Homo sapiens: one gene and its partners. The protein of the gene in region 1 purifies or fractionates together with the protein of each later gene. This does not show direct contact. Each region holds a gene or a part of one and is shown in the gene's direction. Other genes may lie near its edges.

Region 1 (5,331 bases):
AACCGCTCTCACTGTGAGTAGGGGGAGGGGCTATTAGCATAGGGGCTTCTAGAAGAACATTTTAAAAATCACTGCACGCATCATTTCTCACTTCCGCAGAGGTATAAAATATATTTTTTTTAATTTTTAATACTAAAGATGTCCCAGAACAAGTGGCTGCTATTCAGAGCCATTGGCCTAAATCTTGTCTGCCATCTGGTTTGAAAAATAACCATTGCCACTTAGCTAGATAGTTTTATTTATTTCTGTTTTAAAGCAACCAGCTTTTTTATACCGTGTGTAGTAGTGATTCTTCCATCTTTCTTTTAGCAGTCAAACTCTTAGGAAACTGGAATCTTATGTGGAACCATAGTGGTCAAACAGGAGGCCGATGTGGAGAACAGATGGACTCTGTGAGTCCATTTCTCAGCCAGGTTTTATTTCTATTGCTTGCAGACCCTCTAGGCTTCTGGGAGCAGTCTCACGGTTTCACAGTGTGAGATCTCCCCCGCGGTGGTCGTTCCTGCAGCGGGGCTGTCTGCAGAGTGATGCATTGCCTGCACCCTGCTACTCATCTCCACAAACCACTCCTGTGCAGATGCAGCCTCACCTGCCTCCTCACTCCCATTGTCCTGGGTTTTTGGCATAATGGCTTGCAAAAACACTATTTCCACGTTGGGAGAGATTAGTGACTTTTTTAGAGAAGCAATGTCTCTGATATCTGTTCGAGTCATTGTAATGAGGTTTCCGGAGTGCCCTCCTCAGTTCTCAGGCAAACCCAGATCCTTCCGTTCTTCCTCGTTTCTGGTTTTCTCACCATTCAGTCGCTCGCATTTCTGGTTCCCTTTTCCTGTTGTAGCCCAAAATGTAACAGCCACAGCCCTGACTGCAGCATAGTGTGACTCCAGGAATGTCTAGAGAGAGACTAAGAGAATTATCCTTCTGTTAGCAGCTGTGGGTTTTGAATTACACATGCACACATTCTCTTTGTGAAATTGAGAGTACTATGTGAGTTTCAGTAACGATGGAACTGGGTCGTTGGAAAGGCTTGGCTGGCACTGGTCGTGTTTACCAGGCCCTCGTGCTTTGGCTAGTGTGGCTCTAGCAAACACCACCACATGTTCTCTGCTAACCATCCTGAACTTATGAAGTGGCGTAAAAGGAATGGTCATTCAATTATTAACTTGGCTGAAAAAGTCAAGGTGAAAGAGCCTGACTAGAAGAAACTTTGCCAAATGAAACTATAGACATCCCATTGAGGAGTAGGTTATTTTCTTCTGTTTCCTTATTACATTGAAATCAGCATAAGGTGGGTAGGGCATGTTGAAAAATCAAAACCCCACCTACCTGCTTTAAGCAGGCAACAACAGTTCTTAGCAAGAAAGGTCATCTAAGTATATAAGATATTTTCTCATTCCATTAAGCTACCCTTTAAAGCATTTTACCTCTCATTATTTTTTGAATCCCAAAAGGAAGCAAATGATAGCATATAATTTTATCCTTTTCAAATATACAGTTTCTGTTACAGATTTTTTTGTTACTTATGGCAAAATTGCTATACCAAATTAAAATAAAATATAAATACAAAATTTTAAAATTAAGAATAATTATGGTGGCTGGGTACAGTCGCTCACGCCTGTAATCCCAACACTTTGAGAGGTTGAGGTGGGTGGATCACCTGAGGTCAGGGGTTCGAGACCAGACTGGCCAACATGGCGAAACCCCATCTCTACTAAAAAAAAAAAAAAAAAATTAGCTGGGTGTGATGGTGGGCACCTGTAATCCCAGTGACTTGGGAGGCTGAGGCAGGAGAATTGCTTGAACCCAGGAGGTGGAGGTTGCAGTGAGCTGAGATTGCGCCATTGCACTCCAGCCTGGGAGACGGAGCAAGACTGTCTCAAAAAAAAAATAATAATAATAAATATGGTTACAGTTTATTTTTTAACTTGTTCATGCAAGAAATTTCCCCATATAAAAATAGCTTTCTTAATCTATGTTGCCTTGTTTTTTCTTTAGTTGATGGGTATTGAAGTTGACCCAGAATATGGAGGCACAGGAGCTTCATTTTTATCCACTGTGCTCGTGATAGAGGAATTAGCCAAAGTTGATGCATCTGTGGCTGTCTTTTGTGAGATCCAGAACACATTAATTAACACACTGATTAGAAAACATGGAACAGAAGAACAAAAGGCCACCTATTTGCCTCAGCTCACTACAGAAAAAGTGAGTTGAGATGAATTGTTGATCTAATGGATCTAATCTTTAGTAAGTTTACAATATTTTCAGGAAAAAAGTAGCTGCAATGTCGACTTTACTATCCAAGACCACAATGCGGTATCATTAATTCAAGCAATGCTTGATAAATTAATGCTGCTGGAAAAGTACACTCTACCTCTTATTTGCCAGTTGGAAATTTAGAAAATAATCATCAGATAATAAAATTATTTCTTTTTGTCCTGATTATATTTTCTAATACGTTTGTTGATGGTTTCATTTACGTTGTGATGTCTTTCTGCTGTAATTATTCAAATCAATTTCAATGAGTATGTGTTCGTGAGTCTTTAAATTTGTCTTGGACAAATAGGGTATATTTTTTGGAAAATAATACTTTCAGAATACCATTGCTATTTTCATAAATATAGGCTTTTTAAAAAAGCAGCTAAAGATTTGATTTACAAATGTCCATTTTTCCATAAGTATTTGTTATACAGAGTATAAATACAGTTATTAATTTGGACATTTTTTTCTCCCATATGTAGGTAGGAAGTTTCTGCCTTTCAGAGGCTGGAGCAGGTAGTGACTCATTTGCTTTGAAGACCAGAGCTGATAAAGAGGGAGATTATTATGTCCTCAATGGATCAAAGATGTGGATCAGCAGTGCTGAGCACGCAGGGCTCTTTCTGGTGATGGCAAATGTAGACCCTACCATTGTAAGTTTGAAAACGAAATTTCTTTCTTTTTCCAAACCCCTTCTTTTCTCTTTCTTTATCTTTTCCTCCTTCTGTTTCCTTTTTAGGACTTCATCTTGAACTCTTTAGTCTTCTCAGTACTGAAAATGTCAGACTTGAGCTGGCATTTTTTCACTTCGTTAATCTCCTAAAGTAAATATTGTTGACAAAATTATTAATTAGAATTGGCCCACCATATCTGTGGATTCAACCAACTCTGGATTGAAAATATTTGATTAAAAAAAAATTCTGCAAAGTTCCAAAAAGTAAAACTTGAATTTGCTTTGTGCCAACTACCATATTGAATTCACGTGAATAAAGTGACATGCATGTATTATGTTAGGTATCAGATAATCTAGAGATGATTTAGAGTCTACCGGAGCATGTGCATAGGTTATATGCAAATATTACACCATTTTATGTAAGGTACTTGAGCACTGTCAGATTTTGGTATCCATGGGGGTCCTGGAACCACTCCGCCACAGATATGGAGGGATGACTGTTTGTGGAGGACCAACTGTTACTTAGCTCCTAATGGGTTATGTAGGAAGCTAATCTTTTTTCTTTTCTTTTTTTTTTTTTTTTTAATATGGAGTCTCGCTGTATCTCCTAGGCTGGAGTGCAGTGGTGTGATCTCACCTCACTGCAACCTCCTCCTCCTGAGTTCAAGCGATTCTCCTGCCTCAGCCTCCCAAGTATATGAGACTACAGGTGTGCACCACCACGCACAGCTAATTTTTGCATTTTTTGTAGAGACAGAGTTTCGCCATGTTGGCCAGGCTGGTCTCAAACTCCTGACGTCGGATGATCTGCCTGCCTCGGCCTCCCAAATTGCTGGGATTATAGGCGTGAACCACTGCACCTGGCCCTAATCTTTAATTTTGTTGAATTTCCAATTTCTGTTTAGTAATGAAGAATTTAAGTACCTATTTAGTACATTTATTTTTAAGAATATTTTATTCAGTTGGAAAATAGACATATAGCAAAATAATAAATACATTTTTTCACCAGTAAATACAGTATTTTCACTAATGTAACAATTGAATTAAATTGTTAAAACTTTTTTTTTTTTTTTTTTTTGAGACGGAGTTTCGCTCTAGTTGCCTAGACTGGAGTGCAAGGCTGTGATCCCAGCTCACTGCAACCTCCGCCTTCTGGGTTCAAGCAATTCTCCTGCTTCAGCCTCCTGACGGGTGCCTGCCACCACACCCAGCTAATTTTTGTATTTTTAGTAGAGACGTTTTTTCACCATGTTGGCCAGGCTGGTTTCAAACCCCTGACCTCAGGTAATCCGCCCGACTCAGCCTCCGAAAGTGCTGGGATTACAGGCATGAGCCACCGCACCTGGCCTAAAACTTTATATAGTAAAATTAAATTGAGAACATGACATTCTCATGATTATATAATAGTGTAATAATAATTTTAATATTTATGATGGTCTCTGAAAAAGTGAAACAAATGGTAAGGTTCTATAGTTTGGATCTAATGTCCTCTAGCTGCTCTCGTTTCATAATGCCCATGTTGCAATTCTGAGTCCATTAGTATTTATTACCAAAGTCCATTTTTAGTTTTCTTTTTACTTAAACTCTTCAGAAACAAGGCGTTTTATAAATCCAAGTGGTAATAGCGTTTTAATTCTTCTTTTTAGGGATATAAGGGAATTACCTCCTTCTTAGTAGATCGTGATACTCCGGGCCTTCATATAGGGAAACCTGAAAACAAATTGGGGCTCAGAGCTTCTTCCACCTGCCCGTTAACATTCGAAAATGTCAAGGTGGGTATCGTAGACTAATCAGTAAAAGACTGATGCGAAATAAGCCTTGCATGGAACCACAGGAGGTGTGCAAGACAGGTGTCAAAATACTAAGTGGCTATAAGCACACGCAGGAGAGTATTTTGTAAAACCCTGAACAGCGCTCTTTAGTCATGACCAGATAAATGTACTTTTCACAAAAGTGGAAACCTTTCTGCCAAGAAGCTGTCCTGGGAAGCAAGTGCCAAGAATTCATCCCATTTATGTTTTATAACTTATGTGCTTCTGACCACGTATACTTTATAAGCTTGAGACTTGTGAACCAAATGGGGCCGCAGAGAAGGAAGTCTGGTGTCAGTGCACTAAAGGCCACAAGATGGGGGTGTTGCTCAGTGAGAGCGGAAACAGCCAGGCTATTAAACGTGAGCAGCAGAAGATCCAGATAGTTAGTGCTGATGCTGGAGAACTCCCTGTAGGTGGGGCAGGTGGTGTCGGCTTTTCCACCACTCATCACAGAGCTTGATCTTTTTTTTGCATGGCTGTGGGGAGTGAGGGGGAGGATGTCTTTACAGATGTCACTGGGGCCTCATTACTTCACCCCAACTGTTTTCCTCATTCTTACTTTCCCATTTCTTTCTCCATTCTTCCCTG
Region 2 (5,331 bases), on another chromosome or scaffold:
AATATTATGTAATTTGCATAGGGACAGTGACTAGAACGATATGGCCGGGTACAGTGGCTCACTCCTATAATCCCAGCACTTTGGGAGGTCAAGGAGAGTGCATAACTTGAGGTCAGGAGTTCGAGACCAGCCTGGCCAACATGGTGAAACCCCATCTCTACTAAAAATACAAAAATTAGTTGGGCGTGCTGGCGCACGCCTGTAATCCCCACTACTTGGGTGTCTGAGACAAGAGAATCGCTTGAACCTGGGAGGCGGAGGTTGCAGTGAGCTGAGATCGTGCCACTGCACTCCAGCCTGGGTGACTGAGCAAGACTGTCTCAAAAAAAAAAAAAGAAAAATAATGTTGCATTGTTCACTTATTCAGTGAAATATATAATATATATTGAGCCCTCCCCAGGCTAAGTGCTAGGAATATAGTGGAGAACAGAAAAATAATTGGTATTTTTAATGGAGTTTATGGGTAGGTGATAGGAGAGGTGGTTGTGAATCAGATAATCACACAAATAAATCTAGAGCTGTTTATTATGTGCATGTCATAAAGAAGAAATACAGTGCTGAAAAGTGTGTCAGTGTGGGGGCAGGGGAGACAGTGAAGGCTTTCCTGAGGAAGTGGTATTTGAGCTGAGATTTGATGGGCGAGTAGGTGTCAGATGAAGTGGGGAGAAGAGCATTCGTTGCAAGGGAAGTAGGATGTGCCAAGGTACTGTGGTTGGAGGGTTTTTACAGTAATCTTCTGCTGATAACTGGCTGATTACCCACCAAATAAATCTCTTCAGTGGTGGCAGGTTGAAGCTAAAAAGAAGTAAGGGATGCCTATGAGTCCCATAGAGATAGGTGCATTTGCGTAGGAGACACTTCCCAATGATGTTAAAATCCTAACATGGAGTCAGAGATCTTCCTCCCAGCATGATTTATGTATAACAGTGAATATTAGGAATAATTCCATAATTGAAAGCCAGTATAGCTGAACTGTAGATAGGGGTAGAATAGTGCAAGAAGAGCTTTACTTTTCAGGATTTCCTTGTGATTGTATATTACTTTTATACTAAGCAGTCATTTCAAATAAATATTCAGGTGGCCATTCTTTTCATCTGTTGTAGAGCTAATCTTGCATAAATGTGCATTAAGAAAATAAGATTCAACCAACCCAAATGTCCAACAATGATAGACTGGATTAAGAAAATGTGGCACATATACACCATGGAATACTATGCAGCCATAAAAAATGATGAGTTCATATCCTTTGTAGGGACATGGATGAAATTGGAAACCATCATTCTCAGTAAACTATCGCAAGAACAAAAAACCAAACACCGCATATTCTCACTCATAGGTGGGAATTGAACAATGAGATCACATGGACACAGGAAGGGGAATATCACACTCTGGGGACTGTGGTGGGGTCGGGGGAGGGGGGAGGGATAGCATTGGGAGATATACCTAATGCTAGATGACACATTAGTGGGTGCAGTGCACCAGCATGGCACATGTATACATATGTAACTAACCTGCACAATGTGCACATGTACCCTAAAACTTAGAGTATAATAAAAAAAAAAAAAAGAAAAAAAAAAAGAAAATAAGATTCATTTGGATTTGGAATCAGAGGCAGACTAATGTATTATTTATGAGCTAGACTTATAGGGCACTTTTCCACCAGTGAACTCAGAAAAATATTATAGGTGTGCAATTTATGGTTCCATAAGAAAACAGTCAAAGCAGCAGGCCTTGCTGATAGTATCTTTCATGCTTACACTTACTCCAGTCATTAAGTTTGGGATGAAGAAGTTAACAACAGCTAATCATTTAGTTCTTGTAGATTCATTTTAAGAGCCTGTCATAGTTGTTTTTTATAAAAACTTCCTACAGAGGGGAGATTTCAAGTGCTAAGAATATTTTATGATTTTGTTTTAGGTTACAGGAGGTTCCAGTGGCATCGGGAAGTGCATTGCTATCGAGTGCTATAAACAAGGAGCTTTTATAACTCTGGTTGCACGAAATGAGGTAAGGCTTCTAGGTTCATTATTACTGACTTGCTTCTTCGACTTGAAATTAGTCAAAGAGGCTGTGCTAAACATCTTAGCATTCACACCTAGAAAGCGCTTCTTCCTTGATGTGAGATGTGTTTCCTGAACTACTGATTCTCTCTAGTATTTAGGCCAAACACTTCTCTGTTGAAATCAGGTCGGCCCCACAAGTATTTATTTAGTACCATTGGCATATTAGGCAACATCATCATAGATACTGCAGATCCTGAGATGGGAGAGGCCAAGGTCTAGTTGAAGGAGCACACCTGGCCATTGGAAGCCAGGGAGGGCCCTTGGCCAGGTCAGAAGTGCTGGAAGCAGTGATTCTGGAGCTGATACCTGAAGGTGTGTAGGTGTTTCTCTATAATTTTTCACTACGATTTGCTTAGGACATGATATATATCTCTAGTGAAATCTATACACCATAGAGGAACCTCGTCCCTCCTTAGAAGTTTAGCAAAATGTGTTTTTCTGTATTAAGTCAACACAGAATCTGTTTTTATTTTTTGTCAGGGTTTGTTTTTGTCTTGCCAAAGTTGTTTTTAGAGCACAAAGCAGTGACACTGTGCACGTGAACTGTCATGACGTCCTCTTGCTCCCCATATGGGGACTGGAGGAAAGTGACCACACAGCTGGCTCGTCCGCTGCAGCAATTCTAGTGCTTGACACGTAGTACATGCTCAGACATGTTTGTTGAATGAAGAAATGAAGGGAGGAATGATGGAGTGCCTGGGAATGTCAGCATGGCATACTTCCATGGGGATCTTGGATTCACCCATGTGCAAGGAGGGTGATAGTATGGTAACTCCTCAAATGGGTGGAGGGCTGGACAGGACCCATTAGGAATGGTAGGCCAGGAAGGGCCTTGGGGGAAAATTTAAATAATGTCGCAGACTTAGTCTTGGACCTCTATAATTTCTTTTATTTTTTTCTTTTTTCTTGAGACAGCATCTCACTCTGTTGCCCAGGCTGGAGTGCAGTGGCATGATCTCGGCTCACTGCAACCTCTGCCTCCTGGGTTCAAGTGATTCTCCTGCCTTAGCTTCCTGAGTAGCTGGGACTACAGGCGCCCACCACCACGCCTGGCTAATTTTTGTATTTTTAGTAGAGACAGGGTTTCACCATGTTGGTCAGGCTGGTCTGGAACTCCTGACCTTGTGATCCGCCCGCCTTGGCCTCCCAAAGTGCTGGGATTACAGGTGTGAGCCACCACACCTGGCCTGGACGTCTATAACTTCTTTTGCAAACCAAGAAAGACAAAATTAGCTACCTTTTATTTATAGCTTGACTTTTCTAACAATGAATTTGCTTTGGCATTGAAGCCACCTTACATAAATGAAAACACAAATTTGATGAAATGGCATTTTGTGAGTTTTAAACACCAGTTTTGATGCAAGTAAATAAAAGTGGAGGCAGAGAAGGCCAGCATTTCAGGCCCCCAGGAGCTCATATGGGGCCCTTGCATTGCTAGAAATGAATGAACTGAATGAAGAACCTGTGGTGTTGAGTAATTCATTCTTTTTTTTTTTTTTTTTTTTTTTTTTTTGAGACGGAGTTTTGCTCTGTAACCCAGGCTGGTGTGCAGTGGCGCTGTCTTGGCTCACTGCAACCTCCACCTCCGGAATACCTGGGATTACAGGTGTGTGTAACCACACCTGGCTGATTTGTGTGTGTGTGTGTGTGTATATATATTTACATATATATAAAATATATATTTTTATTATATATATTATATATTTTATATATATATATATTTTTTTTTTAGTAGAGACAGGGTTTTACTATGTTGGCCAGGCTGGTCTCAAACTCCTGACCTTAAGTGATCCACCCACCTCGGCCTCCCAAAGTGCTGGGCTTACAGGCGTGAGCCACTGCGCCCGGCCTCACTGTGTCACCCAGGCTGGAGTGCAGTGACACAATCTCGGCTCACTGCAACCTCCGCCTCCCAGGCTCAACCAATCCTCTCACTTCAGCCTCTTGAGTATCTGGGACCACAGGTGCTCGCCACCATGCTTGGCTAAGTTTTTGTATTTTTGGTAGAGACGGGGCTTCACCATGTTGCCCAGGCTGGTCTCAAACTCCTGAGCTTGGGTGATCCACTCACCTTGGCCTCCCAAAGTGCTGGGATTACAGGGGTGAGCCACCATGCCTGGCTGAGAAATTCTTTCTTTTCTAATGTAATTTTTAATTCCAGTCTTTGCAAAGTCAAGCTGTATGTATCTTTAGTCATAGGACAATATTATTTCATTATAGACATATTCAGGTTTAGAAACTCTGCATGCCTTTTGGAAGAATTCGCCTCTCCTTTGGTTCCTCTCTATTGCATGATATTATTTAAGTTACTTTTTACAGCAAATTAAGATAATCTGATATCTGTTTTCTTGAGACTAAGTAAAACAAACAAAATTAGGACCTTGGAAGAATTACATAATTACACAGGTAACCTTGCTTAAGAGTATTTTATAGTAGCCAGGCCTAGTTTACCCAGTCTATCCAGAAAGTGATTCTTACTATGTTTGGGTTTATAGTAGAAGAAGAAAATATTGGACAAAAAGCAGTATTGACAGGGAGTCACACATACCCTCAACTTTGGGGAGCAGTACATATTAATAGAGTTGTTCTTGTCTTATATCACAACTAAATAATAAGACATTTATTAGAACTGTAGAGTCAGCCTCAGCAATTAGTACTGTTAACTGGGATTTTGAGGTTTATCTGTTTTCTACTATCTTTCTCTAATTAATTTTCAAACTTTTATCACTTATTCATAGCTTAACATACTTCACAACTTCTTTCTTTCATAGGCTGTGGCCCAGTCTGTCTATGCAATGTAGATACTGTTTTGTGTGTTTTCTGGAATTTAATACATACATATAGAAATAATTGCTTTTTTTCTCTCCTTTGCAATAAACGGACATGCATATAGACGGTCATCACGACTAATTATTCTGTATTGCTTTCAGGATAAGCTGCTGCAGGCAAAGAAAGAAATTGAAATGCACTCTATTAATGACAAACAGGTAAATCTCTGTCTTCAGAATGCATTTTCTGTATAACTCAGCACAGCTGTATAAAGGAAAAACAGAGTTACTTCACCTGTGAATAGTTAATTGAAAGCATATATGTACTGTTTTTTAAAAGGTGGAATTGTTTGAATGGTCTAGTAACTCAGAATATCACACACACGCAAAATGAATAGACTCCCACACACATTCATATCTACAAATGGTCAAATAACAGAATGTTTTACTGGCAAATAATTTCATTTTAATTTTTTTTTTAATGAACTTTATACAAATGC
Region 3 (5,331 bases), 5.8 Mb from region 1:
TTGTGGACTCCTCCCTATGAGCAGGTCTTCTCATGAGGCTGGGGGCAAAGGCTTCACATATGTATTTTGAAGAGGTTTTAGTACAGACAAAGCAGACTAATGTGTTGATGACCGCCTGTGCTGCAGGAATTCCCATGGGCAAGGAGATGGGCTTTTGTAATGTTAAGAATGATAATATGTTAGGAAAAATCTGTCACTATTTTGAGTGAATGGTATACTTTTGTCTCTTATTTATAATATACCAATTGATCATGATAAAAATAAGTGCTCAGTCCACCCCTGTAGAAGCAGGAACGCAACCTTTGAGTGGTACAGTGGCACAGCATGGCTTTCACTGAGGACAGATGGTAGAAGGCTGCTGAGGCTGGGGTAGAACTCAGTATGGTACTCTAGGTCCTTCTCAGGTGACCGTTTGCCTGTCCTCTGCCTTGCCTCCCCTTGTCCTCCACTGTCTGGTTGGCCCATCTTTTTAGGGAGGGTGCTAGTCCTCTGGCGGCTCCCCTTGCCATTCTGCAGGTCTGGCAGAGTTGCAGGTTGCTAACTGTACGGCCCCTGGCCTGCATCCTTTTGGTGCTTCCCTGCTTTGCTGTTTTCTGGTTCACTTGTCCCTCACCACTCAGCACACCTGCATGCCTGACCCACCTCCTGCCAGTCACACCTGGGCCACACGCTTAGACTATGGGTGTTTCCAAGGTGGAGAATAATAGGGGGGACCAGAACGCCCCAGAACTCCAAGGAGTCCGAGAGATCATCTGGCCCTGCTCAGAAATTATGTGTGTGTATGTATGTTTATGTGTGTGTGTGTGTGTATGCATGTGTATCCATGTATGTGTGTGTTGTGTGTATGAGTGTGTATGTGTGTGTTGTGTGTATGTGTGTGAACTAAAAGAAGCTAAAACACACATGCACACACATACATACACATACACACTCATACACAAACACACACATTCATACACACAAACACACATACACACACTGACACACGCATACACACACACATACACACATACACCCCCCACATAAACACATACACATACACAAATATACATACACACATATGCATACATACATACACGTAGATACACATACACATACAAACACCCACCCACATACATATGCACACATACACACATACATATACACACATACACACACACCTACACACATACACATACACACACATACACAAATACAAGTACATACACAAACACATATACACAGACACATACACATGCAAACACATGTACACACATATATACACATACATACACAGATACATATATACATATACATAATACACATACACACATGCATACACACATATACATAGACATACACAGATACATATATACATATACATACATACTCATAAATACACACATATACATACAGACATACACCCCAGCAACAACCACGACCAGCATTAGAATCTCGTCTCTTGAATAGTGGGGAGCAGGTAGCATAAAGATGGTGTGTGTTCAGAGTTCCTGGCTCAGACTCCCTGGCTCAGTGAGTGTGGTCAAGCCTCGCCTCTCTGAGTATTGGTTTCCTCATCTATAAAATGGGGATGCTCATGATTGGCTGCTGTGAGCCAGTGTCTGTGAACACACTGGCAGGGACTCAGAGGTTGGTGCCCTCCCCTCCACATGTGTCAGTGGCAGGCACATGAGGAAAGTTTCTTTCATTGAAATGGTGCTTGCTGCTTCCTAATATGTACAAGTGCTGGGGATATGGGTGAACAAAACCAACAGAAGAGTTGGGCATTTAGCAAAGAATTGAAGAATGAATGACAATTGAGATGATGCTGTGAGAGAACATCTGTATACGAGGGGAACCTGACCTCCTCTGGGGGTCAGAAAAGGCTTCCTTCATTCTTTCTACTCAAAGATTAGTATCACCCCAAGACTTGCAGGTGGTGATGACAGAAGGGGAAGAGCTGGCAGGGTGGTGAGTTTAAGACACACTCCCTGATATTCGGCCCATTTTGGGTTTACATCCGTTTTCTATACACTGTGTTCCCTGACTGTCTTCAGGAATGGTGGATTCGTCAATGATGCCTATCATGGGCTACCTCGTAGACCTGCGGCACGTGTCCGTCTATGGGAGTGTGTACGCCATTGCGGATGTGGCATTTTGTATGGGGTATGCTATAGGTAAGGACATTGGCTTTTCATAAGAACCTTTTACCTCAATACGTAATGGATAACGTCTACTAAAATTGTTTAAATCTTTGCATCTTTCAGTCTACAAGACATTTGGAAGAGCTTTATCTAATTCTCTGTTTCCTGAAAGGTCCTTCTGCTGGTGGTGCTATTGCAAAGGCAATTGGATTTCCATGGCTCATGACAATTATTGGGATAATTGATATTCTTTTTGCCCCTCTCTGCTTTTTTCTTCGAAGTCCACCTGCCAAAGAAGAAAAAATGGTAAGAAAAATTTAGGATGCAGTGAGCATTTCTTGATAATTTTAGCATGGCCTTCCTGATAGCTTCCTCATGGTTTCATTCTAAAGCCTTCAAACATAAATGGTGAGAATTCCTTTTTAGTTTGTACCACATAGAGCAGTTACTTCTTTTATTTTTTTATTACTGTGAAAGTTATTTCTTTCAAGCTTATGTTTATAAACTGGGAGAATGAAATTATTTTTGTACATAGATTAGCATCAGTGTTGCTCTTTTGTCGACCAAGTATAAACCTGGAATCATTCAATTTGATTTTCTATGGTTCTTGAAAATCTTGGACACAATCTTTCTGCCTCCTGTACTTATGCCCAAGGTTAGCCATTTGTGGTGCTGTTGCTTTTCTCATAACCCTTACAGCATTCAGTAATAGTTGCTGTCTTGTCTTTACTGTATGTAGGATTTTAGAGATGATTTTACGATTTTTATGGAAAAATCATTGTATATGGACTTTGGGGTATATGTGAACACACAGAACGATTTAATTCATAACTTTATGACCAAAATTATAGCCATAGGCAAGATACAGAGTATAAAGCATCCCTCTTTTGAAAAAGTCCAAATTAATTGATTCAAAATTTGAATTTTGAAATGCATGAGTCATTTTAACCTTTCTAAGGTATTTACCTTACCCAGCAAGGAGACGCTCAGTGTTTCTGATCATCTTTCTTATCTGGTGTTGCCAGTTTTTAAAACAGCAAATGCTGATAGGTACTTGTCCAGGTGAAAGGAGAGTGTCTTGGATTAAGGATGAATGAGGTGAACAAGAGGACATGCATTTTTGTGTTTGAATAGATGTGAGGTTTGTTTGTAATGTTCTCTTGGAAGTACATCAGAAGGTCTTTCTGACAGTGGAACTGAATGCATCTTAATGCTTTGGCATTTCCTGAACTGCCCTTTGATGCTTTTCCCCAAAAGGAGATTTAAAGACAAACCTTAAAATAAGGTTATGTGCAGCCTGTGTTTGTCTTGGGTGTTTTTTACATTCATTAATTCATTCCACATATTTTAAAATATATCAAGCACTGGGCACTGGCCTTGTGCCCTTTATTTTAAATAGGATTTAACTAGATACTTTTGAGTAATGCATGGCCCGTCTGACTCATGGAAAAGGTATGGAAGGTGCTGTGGAAATAACTCAGACAGAAGCCATCCCCTTGTCCTTCCCTCCGCTTGCTTAGATGCTTCCCCAGCTCTGAAAACCACATCACCTTCTCAGACCTCTCTTAGGAGACATCTGCTTTCCAGCTTGGGTGTGTAAATTTCAGATGCATCTTTGCTTGGCTGACCCTAGCATAATACCTTGCCGAAATGGAGTCAGAAAATTCTCAGCACAAATGCAAACTGCCATTCTGTTGCCATGATAACAGTTTAAGGCTGAATGGAGGTTACTCAATGTTTTTGACCAAAAAAAGTATATATGTGTGTATATGTGTTTGTGTGTGTCTGTGTGTGTGTGTATAAAATCACCTACAAATGCTCCTGTAGCCCAGGAAACTGTTTGAAGACTCCTGGGAGATAGTTAGGGCTAGCATGGGCCTGGGAGCCACACTGGCCCCACCATGTAGAGGCTTATGAGTCTTGGTTTCCTCCTCTGTTGCATGGAGAAATGATAACGTCTACCTCATAGGATTGTTGTGAGGATTAAATGAAAGAATCCCAACAGAGTGACTGGCCCTGTGGCTCAAAAAGTGTGTTCCTATTTCCAATATCACCCCACTCTTTCCTGCTTATCTAACTCTCTGGCTTCCCCCGTCAGTCCAGCAATACCTGAATTTTCTCCCTTTTTCCTCCTCTGTGATGTGAGAGTTTCCTTTTGCTATACAGACCCCAGAACTCCTGAATGGGCTCCCCTTGCCAAGCCGGCAAACATCAGTGGCTGTTGTGATGTCCGTTTGTGAACGGCAGCCTGATGGCTTATCTGTGGCCTTGGGGAAATGAATGAGGTCAGAGGATGAGCAGAGAATGTGCTTGCCCAGCCAACTACCACTGTGTTCCGCAGAAGGACTGGCAGAAGGCAGGCCTCAGTACCCCTCCTCTTTCCCCATTTAAACGAATACTTCAGTTCATGTTTTAAAAAAATGCTGAAGGAAGTGGAAGAGACGATCCTGAAAGGCCAAACAGTAAGAATTATAGGTTTCCAGGAAGCCACTTTCACTGCAAGATGTTACAATCCTTAATAAGCACCTAGCAAGATAAATCATTAAAAACTTGAGAAGGTGTGCATCTCGCTGCCCATCAATGATGCCCATAATTGAAGGCATCACATTGGATGCCATTTGACTGGCCTAATGGTGACATTTGAGAGTGGTGGCCAGCAGTTGCTGCCTACTCATTGTGCAAGCAGAGCAGGAAGCCAGCGGTGGCGGCCGACAGCACCTAATGATAAGGGGGCATGCAGGCAGGACAGCAGTGTGTGAGGGAGGAGGAAGAATCAATGACCATGCAGTTGAGAAACCCCAGAGCAGACAAGTGCTGGCGTTCAGGATGAGCAGTTGCCAAATGCTGGGGGATGTGAGGGCCAGAAGGCATACGACCCTTAGCAAATCATTCTTCCATTAGACAGCATCCTGATAACAAGGTGTTTGGACTTAAGCTGTTTTATATTGTAAGATATAATGCTGTTTTCATGGATCACAAGTGACAGAATCATGAACTAGTTTATAAGCATGTGAGTTTGTCTTCCATTTGGTTTACTGGATTTCTGTTTTTTATAATCAGCATTATCAGTATAGGTGGAGGAAAAAAACTGTTACTCAAGTCCCTCTGCACATACAGGAAATATCAACATTACCATTTGAGGAAAAGTGTCTTATAAGACAGTTACACGGTAGCGCTTCACTCTCAAAATTCCCAGTTGAGAAGAGCT
Region 4 (5,331 bases), on another chromosome or scaffold:
GCCTAGGCGGGCAGATCACCTGAGGTCAGGAGTGCGAGACCAGCCTGACCAACATGGAGAAACCCCATCTCTACTAAAAATACAAAATTAGCCAGGCGTGGTGGTGCATGCCTGTAATCCTAGCTACTTGGAAGGCTGAGGCAGGAGAATCGCTTGAACCCGGAAGGCAGAGGTTGCGGTGAGCCGAGATTGCGCCATTGCATTCCAGCCTGGGCAACAAGAGCGAGACTTCGTATCAAAAAAAAAAAAAAAAAAAAAAAAGTGTTTCATATTTATTGTTAAAAATCCAAACATTACAGAAAAGTGTAGAGGAAAAAGTGAAAGCCCCTGGCCTCCTATGCCGCTGTTAAGTTTGGTTTCTTTTTTCATAGCCGAGGTTTTTTCCTTATTCCTGCAATGTACTGGGGTGGCTAAATTACCAAACTATAAAACAAATCATCTCTAGCCTAGCATGGCTGTCTCTACCAGGCTTGGAATTTACCTGTACATTAGGCACTCTTCTGGAGAGTGAAATTGAACTTCTGTTTCAGGAGCTGTCATTGACTGGCCCACAGAGGAGGGCAAGGAAGTATGGGATTATGTGACGGTCCGCAAGGATGCCTACATGTTCTGGTGGCTCTATTATGCCACCAACTCCTGCAAGAACTTCTCAGAACTGCCCCTGGTCATGTGGCTTCAGGTAAAGTAGCTTCCCAGCCTGGCCTGAGGTCAAAGCCAAGTCTCCTCTGTGTGGCTCTTTGCTTGCTTTTTGGGCTGATGTCTCAGCAGTGAAGGGCGGATTTGGTCCAGCAGTGTGACCTGGGGGTTCGGCGTGCTTCTGAGGTAGGCTGAGGCAATGGTATAGCCAAGGAGGCTAAATCAGAGGGCGAGGGGGTTCTAGCCTTTTGCCAGAGTCTCTTTATATTTCCAGACGGTCACAAGAAGGCTCACTGAAAACTCCTGATGATACATTTGAATACATAGTGATAGAAAGTGTTTTGAGGCCGGGCACAGTGGCTCATGTCTGTAATCCCAGAACTTTGGGAGGCCGAGGTGGGTGGATCATACGAGGCCAGGAGTTCGAGACCAGGCTGGCCGACATAGTGAAACGCTGTCTCTACTAAAAATATTTAATACAAAAATTATCCAGGCATGGTAGCACATACCTATAATCCCAGCTACTCAGATGGTTGAGGCATGAGAATTGCTTGGACCCGGGAGGCGGAGGTAGCAGTGAGCTGAGATCGTGCCACTGCGCTCCAGCCTGGGCGACAGAGCAAGACCCTATCTCAAAAGAAAAAAGAAAAGAAAGTGTTATGGAAGGTTCCAAAGCAAAGACCTGAGGTAGCCTGACCCTCCCTTCCTCTCCATACAATCCTTTCCTGAACCCTAACTTCTTACCCCCAGAAAACCTGATCTTTTGAAGGGACTGCTACAAGCCTTCTGCACCTTCGTGTGACTGTTGCGCCTTCCCCCTTTCCCTGAGTGTGTTTGCATTTTAACCTTGAGCTCTGATTGTAGGATGGAAGGCAGGGAGCTGGTTGAAAGATTTGTAGGGACAGGCAGAGGCTCTTTTCTGGCATTTCTGAAATATCTGTCCAGAGATGGCCCACCCCCACCCGGAAGACCACCCACCAGGGAGGAATTAAGGAACATGGTCTTGCCTCTGGAAAATGTAGGCATGGCCCAGCTGGAACCCTGGGCCCCTCATCAGTAAATAGGGACCCTGGTGCTCACCTCCATAGGATGCTACTGGGACGTCTTCCAACAATGCTGGTATTTATAAGCAGCCTCCCACCACCTGGGTTTTGCCTCCCAGGATGGTCGATGCAGACTTTCTGGTGAGATAGAGCGAAAATGAGCAGTTTTCAGGGAGGGGCCTTTCTCTTTTGGAATTATCACTTGTGCCACCTCTGAGGGCTAGAGCTGAGGCTCAGCCCCAGGTGCGGTTATGATAATGCAGAAAAAGAACCCTTGTATGTCAGCCTGGGGAGCCCTGTTCACCTCCGGTGGCTGGAGACAAAGGTGCGGCACAATTGGCAGGGAGAGCCAGGCCGTGGACAAGCTCAGGCCTGCCGTCAGGGGCCTCGGGTTTTCAGTGCCTACCTGCCACTTAGAGCCATGGCAAGATACTTCCTCCTCTGGGCCTTGGCTGTCTAATCTGGGAGATTTTGGTGGTTTTCAAACTTTTTGTTCATCAGCAGAACTTTTCTTTTTTTTTTTTACCCCCAAATGAAAGCTTACAAAGGGGAGACAAAGCAGACAAAAGCACAAGTGCTGAGGCTGAGGCTTCTCCTTTGAAGTTTATCAACTGAAGAGAATAAATTGCTCTTCACTTACCCAGAGACCCAAGAGAGAAGAAGAAAGATTATGCTTACAGAAGAAATAACTAATTTAGATGAAAAGGAGATCTATTTTAGCAGCCTACTGAGGACATGGTGCTGACTTCTCTCGGGGGAATCTTTGAGAATCGAAGTCATGTCTTCTGAGTGGGTTAGCAAACTATGTTAGGGACACTTTCAAGTCTTCGAAGCGTTTCACTTGGTCCACTGACACACTGACTGTGTCTCAGAGTTTCTGGATAGCCCTGGGCCATGCTAGCACCCTATCCCAAAGTTCTAGACAAAAAAGAGGTTTTACAATAGGATATATTCACGTAGAACAGAGGCTTCCTCCATCCAGCATCTCATTGCCTTTTGAGGAGAGGGGAATGAGGAGAGAGGAGAGGGAGAGGTCATCTTCTGCTGTCTCCCTGGCATACCAGAAGCAGAGGAGAACTGAGATTTCTCCCACAAAGACCCAACCCCTAGGATTTCCAGCTTTTCTCCTTTTGCTTTGATCCTACCTCATCCTAATAAGTCCATTAGGAAAAAGGAACCCAGCTTTCATTGGAGGGTAGATCCCTGGCTTTAATTTATTGCATATTGCATTATAAATATTTTTCAATGTTGCCACATCATTTTTCGTAGTTCATGATTCTAAGTGGCAGTGTAGCATTCCATGCAGTAGATGTGGTATGGTTGCCTAACCTGTTCCCCTATTTGGGGGACGTTTGAGTTGCACCCTTACTTCTGTTATTTTTAATAGGACTGCGGTTAACATCTTCATCTGGTTTGTGAACTTTTTACTGCTTAGGAAATCTTAAGATACAAAGGGCATATGATCAGGGGGATGTATAGCCTTCCAATTTTATCAGAGTTAGGTTGGTCCAGGTTCAAAACATTAGTGTTGTAAAGTCTTTCCCTTTTGGGGCCCTCTTGCCGTTGCTAGTTACCCTTTAGCCCTGACTCTATCTTGTCTTTTTTTTTTTTTTCTTTAGATTTCCCTACACAAATTGCCCTGGCTTTTGTTTTGCCCAAGGTATTCCCTTTCATCTTTTTTTTCTTTTTCTTTTTTGAGATGAGGTCTCGCTCTGTCACCCAGGCTGGAGTGCAGTGGCGCAGTCTCGGCTCACTGAAACCTCCACTTTTTGGGTTCAAGTGATTCTCGTGCCTCAGCCCCCCGAGTAGCTGGGACTACAGGCGCACGCACCACACCCGGCTAATTTCCTGTTCTTAGTAGACGCAAGGTTTCACCATGTTGGCCAGGGAGGACTTGAACTCCTCTCGAACTCCTGACTTCAAGTGATCTGCCTGCCTTGGCCTCCCAAAGTGCTGGGATTACAGGCGTGAGCCACCGCACCCGGTCCCCATTTCGTCTTTTCATATCTCCCTTTCCTACCCATCCTGCTAGTGCACAGAGAGGCCATATCCTTTTATTCTAGGTCCTCTGCCCTTTCCCTCGCCTCAGCTGACAGGGCCCTTCTCATAGACTCCCCACCTCAATTGGCCCCTGGATTTGTCCAGAAAAAGCACTGACCATCTTTTCCCCTGACCACCTCCCAAAGAGCCTCCTCTTGTCTCAATTAGAAAGCCCACCCAACCTGTCCTATTTGCCTCTTAGTTTCTTTTTTCTCTGAAGCCCTCAGAGCCCATAGAACTGCCCCCAACACCGAGCTGTGGTTCAGAATCCTGCCTTTCCCTCTCCCATGGATGCTCACAGTATCAAACTCTCCCTGCCCTGGGACTTTAGAAACTGCTGCATTATATCCACAGAATCTGCTTGATCAAACTGCTTCTAAGTCTGGGTCCCTTATCAATCCACAGGGACTCTGAAGAGTCTCCCATCTCCTGGGGAGAGGGTGATGGAGGAAGAGTCAGAAGGCCCAGTGTCTAGTCCGGTTAGAGCTCCTTCAGGTCAGCAAGGCCTACGGCAGGCCAAGGCTCCAGCTCAGAAAATCAGGAGGCAGCTGGGTGTGATGGCTCACACCTGTAATCCCAGCACTTTGGGAGGCTGAGGCGGGAGGATTGCTTGAGCCCAGGAGTTTGAGACCAGCCTGGGCAACATGGTGAAACCTCACCTCTACAAAAAATACAAAAATTAGCCGGGCTGGGCATGGTGGTGTGCGCCTATAGTTCCAACTACTTGAGGGGGCTGAGGCGGGAGGATCACTTGAACCCCAGAGGTAGAAGCTGTGGTGAGCCGAGATTGCACCACTGCACTCCAACCTGGGTGACAAAGTTAGACTCTGTCTGAAAAGAAAAGAAAAGAAAAGAAAAAATCAGGAGTCAGGAACATTCCATTGTGGACCTCTTAGCTCAGCTCTGCTCCTTTCAGAGAAAAACCTCAGCAGTTACTAGGGGAGCTTTGCTAATGTGGAAGTCCCTGGTTCACTAGAGAAATTGTGTCTTTTGTGCAAATTGACCCAGCCATCACTAACTCATAAACCATCTATAGCAAATGTGGTCATTCATTGTAAAGACTAAGATCTGACTAAAATTTTTGTTTGTTTCTTCTCTCTTCCATAGGGCGGTCCAGGCGGTTCTAGCACTGGATTTGGAAACTTTGAGGAAATTGGGCCCCTTGACAGTGATCTCAAACCACGGAAAACCACCTGGGTACAGTGAGGACAGTCCTGAGCTAAACCTTGCCCCGTGGCCTCTCAGAGGCCCTGCCCAACTCTGGGAGGGGCCACAAATGTAGCAATCCCTCGCTGTCCTTTTCCTTTTCCTGTGACTACTGAGGCCATGGGCACTTGTCCGCAGGCTTCCTCTCTGGCCTAGCTTCTCTCCCATTTCTCAGGACAGCTTATCTTGCACCAGTCTGCCTCGCCTTCTCCAAAACAACCCCTCTCTCCAGCTGCCTTCAAAAACCTACTACAGCAGACACCTGGGACCCTGTGTTATGCACGCTGGCCATCTCCGCGGCCTCAGACACCATGGTTGCACCCTCCAGCCACAGCCCCCAGTCCTTTTCTCTCTCTCCTATCCTCCTACTTGTATCTTGACTTCCCCTTTCAATGTCTCTCTTGCT

What was found.
Region 2: the proteins of ACADSB (region 1) and KDSR fractionate together in Homo sapiens (co-fractionation; one large-scale study listed by BioGRID). This does not show direct contact.
Region 3: the proteins of ACADSB (region 1) and SLC18A2 purify together in Homo sapiens (co-immunoprecipitation; one large-scale study listed by IntAct). This does not show direct contact.
Region 4: the proteins of ACADSB (region 1) and SCPEP1 fractionate together in Homo sapiens (co-fractionation; one large-scale study listed by BioGRID). This does not show direct contact.

The regions. Positions count from the first base shown.
Region 1 is NC_000010.11:123,038,471-123,043,801, forward strand, and holds part of ACADSB (short/branched chain specific acyl-CoA dehydrogenase, mitochondrial isoform 1 precursor), read left to right. Parts: intron 1-1,995; coding exon 1,996-2,202; intron 2,203-2,738; coding exon 2,739-2,909; intron 2,910-4,575; coding exon 4,576-4,701; intron 4,702-5,331. UniProt on the Homo sapiens protein: Short and branched chain specific acyl-CoA dehydrogenase that catalyzes the removal of one hydrogen from C-2 and C-3 of the fatty acyl-CoA thioester, resulting in the formation of trans-2-enoyl-CoA.
Region 2 is NC_000018.10:63,359,455-63,364,785, reverse strand, and holds part of KDSR (3-ketodihydrosphingosine reductase), read left to right. Parts: exon of another isoform or gene 1-1,093; intron 1,094-1,917; coding exon 1,918-2,007; intron 2,008-4,993; coding exon 4,994-5,050; intron 5,051-5,331.
Region 3 is NC_000010.11:117,268,035-117,273,365, forward strand, and holds part of SLC18A2 (synaptic vesicular amine transporter), read left to right. Parts: intron 1-2,036; coding exon 2,037-2,156; intron 2,157-2,295; coding exon 2,296-2,429; intron 2,430-5,331. UniProt on the Homo sapiens protein: Electrogenic antiporter that exchanges one cationic monoamine with two intravesicular protons across the membrane of secretory and synaptic vesicles.
Region 4 is NC_000017.11:56,980,552-56,985,882, forward strand, and holds part of SCPEP1 (retinoid-inducible serine carboxypeptidase precursor), read left to right. Parts: intron 1-530; coding exon 531-679; intron 680-4,826; coding exon 4,827-4,916; intron 4,917-5,331. UniProt on the Homo sapiens protein: May be involved in vascular wall and kidney homeostasis.